Homo sapiens: one gene and its partner. The protein of the gene in region 2 interacts with the protein of the main gene of each other region in a pairwise test. Each region holds a gene or a part of one and is shown on either strand. Other genes may lie near its edges.

Region 1 (3,658 bases), on a different chromosome or scaffold from region 2:
AAAAAAAAGAGAAATAGAGATGTTATCAGTCAGTGAAGAGTAACCAGGGAGTTTCATTGTCCAGGTTTGGTAGGGCAAGGGAAGATCTTTCTTGAATCATCTTTAGCTTCAGGAGCACAGCTGTTTGAAAGATGAGAGAAATGGCTTAGCTACCTGGAGGGTTAATTATAAAACAGAGGTCCTGTTGCCTTCCGATCTGATCACTTGCATCTCATTTGCAGATCACCTTTAGGCTCCACAGCCTCTGCCCCAGCACCCTCAGCACTCCCGGCCCCTCCAGCACCCCCAGTCTTCCATGGCATGCTGGAGCGGGCCCCAGCAGAGCCCTCCTACCGTGCTCCCATGGAGAAGCTTTTCTACTTACCTCATGTCTGCAGCTATACCTGTCTGTCTCGAGTCAGACCTATGAGGAATGAGCAGTACCGGGGCAAGAACCCTCTGCTGGTCCCGTTACTATATGACTTCCGGCGGATGACAGCCCGGCGTCGAGTTAACCGCAAGATGGGCTTTCATGTTATCTATAAGACACCTTGTGGTCTCTGCCTTCGGACAATGCAGGAGATAGAACGCTACCTTTTCGAGACTGGCTGTGACTTCCTCTTCCTGGAGATGTTCTGTTTGGATCCATATGTTCTTGTGGACCGAAAGTTTCAGCCCTATAAGCCTTTTTACTATATTTTGGACATCACTTATGGGAAGGAAGATGTTCCCCTATCCTGTGTCAATGAGATTGACACAACCCCTCCACCCCAGGTGGCCTACAGCAAGGAACGTATCCCGGGCAAGGGTGTTTTCATTAACACAGGCCCTGAATTTCTGGTTGGCTGTGACTGCAAGGATGGGTGTCGGGACAAGTGAGTTGGTGGGGGGAATTGCTGCCCCTGCTTCCAACTTTGTTATGGTGTCTGTTTCACCTCTTCCTTTGCCTTGTATCTGTACTGCTTTCCCCATCTTCCTTTACCTCCTCCCTCACCTGGAACTCCTGCTATAAGGCCTCCATGAAAGCTATGAGGTAGGGAGGCTGGAGTCTGACATGGCCACACTGAGCAACCTTGGGTACATGTGTATTGTGTTATTTTTGTTCTCTGATCCCCCCGCTCCTTTCCTTTATTTCCCTCTGTCATATAGGTCCAAGTGTGCCTGCCATCAACTAACTATCCAGGCTACAGCCTGTACCCCAGGAGGCCAAATCAACCCTAACTCTGGCTACCAGTACAAGAGACTAGAAGAGTGTCTACCCACAGGGTAAGTGGTCAAGGAATGGCACAGTACCTCAGAGAGACTGAGGAGCATGTTCTTGTTTTTCTGTGCTTATAGAAATCATCAGAAATCTAAAAATTGGAACCAAAAATAGAATACCAGATGAGGCATTTTATTAATTAGATCTTATTTCATGACTTCCAAAACACATTTTTTTTCTTGGACCTTCCTTGAAATGAAGACATAGAATGATTGAATAGTATCTAGCAATTTTCTGTTGCAAAAAAAGATTATCTTAATTTCATAGCTAAATGAATGTCTTAACAGATTGTGATTTACACTTGTAAGTGAAATGTGTTCAGAGAGGAGAAGTAGGCAGGGACCTGATTACATAGGGCTTTGTAAATCAGAATGAAAAAAGTTAGAATCAGGCTGGCACAGTGGCTCACACCTGTAATCCCAGCACTTTCGGAGGCCAAGGTGGGTGGATCACCTGAGGTCAGGAGTTTGAGACCAGCCTGGCCAACCTGGTGAAACCCTGTCTCTACTAAAAATACAAAAATTAGCCGGGGGTGGTGGCGGGTGCCTGCAGTCCCAACTACTTGGGAGGCTGAGGCAGGAGAATCGCTTGAATCCAGGAGGCAGAGGTTGCAGTGAGCCAAGATCATGCCACTGCACTTCAGCCTGGGTGACAAGAGCGAGACTCTGCCTTAAAAAAAAAAAAAGAAAAGTTAGAATCAAATTCATGGTGCTCTTACAGGATTTTAAGCTGCCAAGTGATGTGACCTGCCTTTTTCAGATTACTCTGGCTTCTTTGTAGATCATAGGTCTTAGGATGGCAAAAGTAGATTTTGGAAGACCAATTAGGAGATCGTTATAGGAGTACAGCAGAGAGAGACATTGTTGCAGCTATGACTTGCAATAGAATGGAGGTGATAGTAGAGGTAAGAAGGATAGATTTGGGCTGTATTAATAGGTAGAGCTACAGAATTGGATAGATTATGGAGTGGGGGGAAAGAGTAGAATCAAGGACAATTCCTAAATTTTTGGCTTGAGCATCTTAGTGGTTGTTGGTGCTTTTTACTGAGATGGAAGACCGAAGGAGTAGTAGGTTTGAGTGAAATTCAGTTTTTGTTTTGGCCATGTTAAGTTTGAAATGCCGCCGGGCGCAGTGGCTCACGCCTGTAATCCCAGCACTTTGGGAGGCTGAGGCGGGCGGATCACCTGAGGTCGGGAGTTCAAGACCAGCCTTGACCAACATGGAGAAATCCCGTCTCTACTAAAAATACAAAAAAAAAAAATTAGCCGGGCATGGTGGCGCATGCCTGTAATCTCAGCTACTCGGGAGGCTGAGGCAGGAGAATTGCTTGAATCTGGGAGGCGGAGGTTGTGGTGAGCTAAGATCGCACCATTGCACTCCAGCCTGGGCAACAAGAGCGAAACTCAGTCTCAGAAAACAAAACAAAACAAAAAGTTTGAAATGCCTGTCAGGCAATCCAAGTAGAAATGTCAAGAAGACACTGGGATTTCTGGAGAGAGTGGGATATAAAAATTTAGGAATCATCAGCACAGGAGTATTTAAAGCCTGAATAAGTTCACCTAGAGACAATGTTGATAATAGAGAAGGCGGCTCAGGAGTAAGCCCTGGGTGCCCCAACATTTAAAGGTTGAGCAGAGGAGGTGGAACCAGCATGAGGTTGAGGACAGCTACTGAGGAGGGTGAGGCCGAAAGATTACTTGAGGCCTGGAGTTTGAGACCAGACTGGGCAACATAGTAAGACCCTGTGTCTAAAAAAAAATTGTTGGGGCTGGGCGTGGTGGCTCACGCCTGTAATCCCAGCACTTTTCGAGGCTGAGGCAGGCAGATCACTTGAGGTCAGGAGTTCAAGACCAGCCTGGCCAATATGGTGAAACCCCATCTCTACTAAAAATACAAAAAACTTGCCAGGGATGGTGGCGAGCACCTGTAATCCCAGCTACTTGGGAGGCTGAGACAGGAGAATCACTTGGACCCAGGAGGTGGAGGTTGCAGTGAGCCAAGACCGCACCATTGCACTCCAGCCTGGGCAAGAAAAGCAAAATTCTATCTCAAAAAAAAAAAAAAATTGTTGGCCATGCGCGGTGGCTCATGCCTGTAATCCCAACACTTTGGGAGGCCAAGGTGGGTGGATCACCTGAGGTCAGGAGTTCAAGAACAGCCTGGCCAACATGGTGAAACCCCATCTGTAATAAAAATACAAAAATTAGCCAGGCGTGATTGTGCACGCCTGTAATCTCAGCTATTTGGGAGGCTGAGGCAAGAGAATCGCTTGAAGCTGGGAGGCAGAGATTACAGTAAGCTGAGATTGCACCACTGCACTCCAGTCTGGACAACACAACAAGACTCCGTCTCAAAAAAAATGATTTAAAAATTAAAAAAAAAATTTTTTTTTTTTTTAGATGGAGTCTTGCTCTGTCG
Region 2 (2,655 bases):
AACTTGTGGAATGACTGTAAAAAACTTCATTTATTTATTTCTCTACACCTCAGTTTTCTCTGAAAAGTGACAATAATATTTGCCACACCACTTAGACAAGAGGGAATTGACAAGACTGTGCCTAGGACTTTGTACTTTGGTATTATCTTTCAGTGTAATGACATTTCATCATTTCAACCTGTGGCTTTTCCTATTTCTCAATCACTAGACTGACCAATAGTGAGATGGTTGGATTAAGGAGGTTCCAATTCTGGGGAGATGACAGAGGAAGGAGATTCATGTTCCAGAGCTTAGGAAGCAGTAGGTGTGCATTCGACCTCACTGCATCAATAACTTTTCACGTTCAAGAGATAGTTAAAATAGTAAAAGCTTCCTTTCTTTCTGCTCTGTGGATTTCACAAATGGGATCGTTAGACTTGAACTTTTTTGCTTTTTTAAAGTAGCCAAACATGATCACATGATGGACTTGAACTTTTCAAAACCCATTCTGATACTTCTAGGATTGCTTTGTGTAAAATCTATTGGCTGTGTTTATAGTTACCTGGCTGTAGAAAGAAAAATTTACATGTTTAAATAGCTAAAATTTCCACAATGAAGGAATAAGCCTCCCAGAGACATTAAGAAAAAGGAAACCAAGCCAGCAAAGATATAAACCATATTTCTGTTCCTAACACAAATGTGAATTTATTGGTTGATTTGATATTTAAAATAGTACTTTTACAAAATCATCTCAGAAAATATACTACATTTATTAAAATTCCTACAAACCATTGCAGAAAATATTAAACCCTCTAACCAACCTAACACTCGCTTTCAGAGGCACTTGTGATGATTTTCACAGCTTCCATAGTTGCAAAGAACAAAGAAATCATCTTCCAACAGGGGTGGAATTAGATAAGAATAATCCAAAAAATATTTATTTCTTTACAGACTCACAGATTGCTTGATGTTTAGGGGCTCTTACCTAGGATACCTAATTATTCAAGGTTTTCCTAATTTAGTAGACTTTTTCATTGCCTACAATCTACAATATTCAGCAAAGTATTAAGGAAAATGAACCCAAGAACCTTAACCACCTCAAATAGTTTTATGGATATACTAAACTGTCAAGTACAATCTTTATCTTAAGACTTGAGAACTGGAATGCAGGAAAACAAACTTTGGTGGAATACTGGAATAAAAGACATAAAGCTGGGCAGAACTAGGTGTGGCAACCTTGTATGTTAATTCTGAAAGCCAGACCAGTGACGCTAAGAATAACAAATAGATTCAGATTTGTTTTTCAGAAACTTGAGCTATTTCGGCCAGGTGCACTGTCTCACACCTGTAATCCCAACAATTTAGGAGGTCAAGGTGGGAGAATCACTTGAGCCCAGGAGTTCAAGACCGGCCTAGGCAACACAGTGAGACCCTGTCTCCCTGTCTCTACTTCTTTTTTTTTTTTTTTTTTTTTTTGAGACGGAGTCTTGCTCTTGTCACCCAGGCTAGAGTACAATGGCATGATCTCGGTTCACTGCAACCTTCGCCTTCTGGGTTCAAGAGATTCTCCTGCCTCAGCCTTCCAAGTACCTGGGATTACAGGCACCCACCACCACGCCTGGCTAATTTTTTTTTTTTTTTGTATCTTTAGTAGGGTTTTGCCATGTTGGCCAGGCTGGTCTTTAACTCCTACCTCGTGATCCACCCGCCTCGGCCTCCCAAAGTGCTAGGATTACAGGCGTGAGCCACCACGCCCAGCCCCCTGTCTCTTTTTTTAAAACACAATTTAAAAGCAGAAAGAAAAAATCTGTGCTGTTTAGACTCAGATTCTTAATTAGCTAGTATTTCTTAATTCAATCAATAAATTATTAAGACCTTTTCACTGCTCCCTTTTTAAAGTCTTCTTTGGAGTGATTTAAGTGCTTCTTATTACCAAGCTCTCAAAGAGAAGATAAAATTAAAATCTGATGGGTAACCATTTAAATAAGACAACTGGGGTAACCCATTTCTCCAGGACCCCTCTCTGCAACAGAGAGCTATTCTCTTTCTTTGGCCTAGTAAACCTCTGCTCTTAACCTTAAAAAAAAAAAAAAAAAAGCAATTGGAAAAAATTTCAAGTCAATGAATAAAATAAGATTTGGGGATAATGGTAGATGCTAATTATGAAAGTCGACTGTTTCCTTTGAAGGGGGAGTTCAAAGCTGTTTTTTTGATGTGAATTCTTTGGGAGACAATAGAAAATGGCTAAATAGGATATAACAGAAACTTTTAAGGATGGAATTCAACTTTACCTAAAAAAGGTTTCAGGCCAGGCATGGTGGCTGACGTCTGTAATCACAGCACTTTGGGAGGCCGAGGCAGGCAGATCACCTGAGGTCAGGAATTTGAGACCAGACTGACCAACGTGGGGAAACACCATCTCTACTAAAAGTACAAAATTAGCCGGCGTGGTGACGCATGCCTGTAATACCAGCTACTCAGGAGGCTGAGGCAGGTGAATCACTTGAACCCGGGAGGTGGAGGTTGTGGTAAGCTGAGATCACAGCATTGCACTCCAGCCTGGGCAACAAGAGCGAAAACTCCGTCTCAAAACAAAACAAAAAAACCTTAAGCTGGGTGCGGTTGCTCACGCCTGTCATCCCAGCACTTTGGGAGGCTGAGGTGGGTGGATTGCCT

The links. Proteins that work in one complex are often made in the same cells at the same time.
Region 1: the proteins of TMT1A (region 2) and SETDB1 interact in binary tests that used the Homo sapiens proteins (3 or more experiments, as listed by UniProt).

What each region holds. Positions count from the first base shown.
Region 1 is NC_000001.11:150,950,237-150,953,894, forward strand, and holds part of SETDB1 (histone-lysine N-methyltransferase SETDB1), read left to right. Parts: intron 1-221; coding exon 222-854; coding exon of another isoform or gene 855-858; intron 859-1,128; coding exon 1,129-1,245; intron 1,246-3,658. UniProt on the Homo sapiens protein: Histone methyltransferase that specifically trimethylates 'Lys-9' of histone H3. H3 'Lys-9' trimethylation represents a specific tag for epigenetic transcriptional repression by recruiting HP1 (CBX1, CBX3 and/or CBX5) proteins to methylated histones.
Region 2 is NC_000012.12:50,930,512-50,933,166, reverse strand, and holds the end of TMT1A (thiol S-methyltransferase TMT1A precursor), read right to left. Parts: 3' UTR 659-2,655; downstream 1-658. UniProt on the Homo sapiens protein: Thiol S-methyltransferase that catalyzes the transfer of a methyl group from S-adenosyl-L-methionine to alkyl and phenolic thiol-containing acceptor substrates.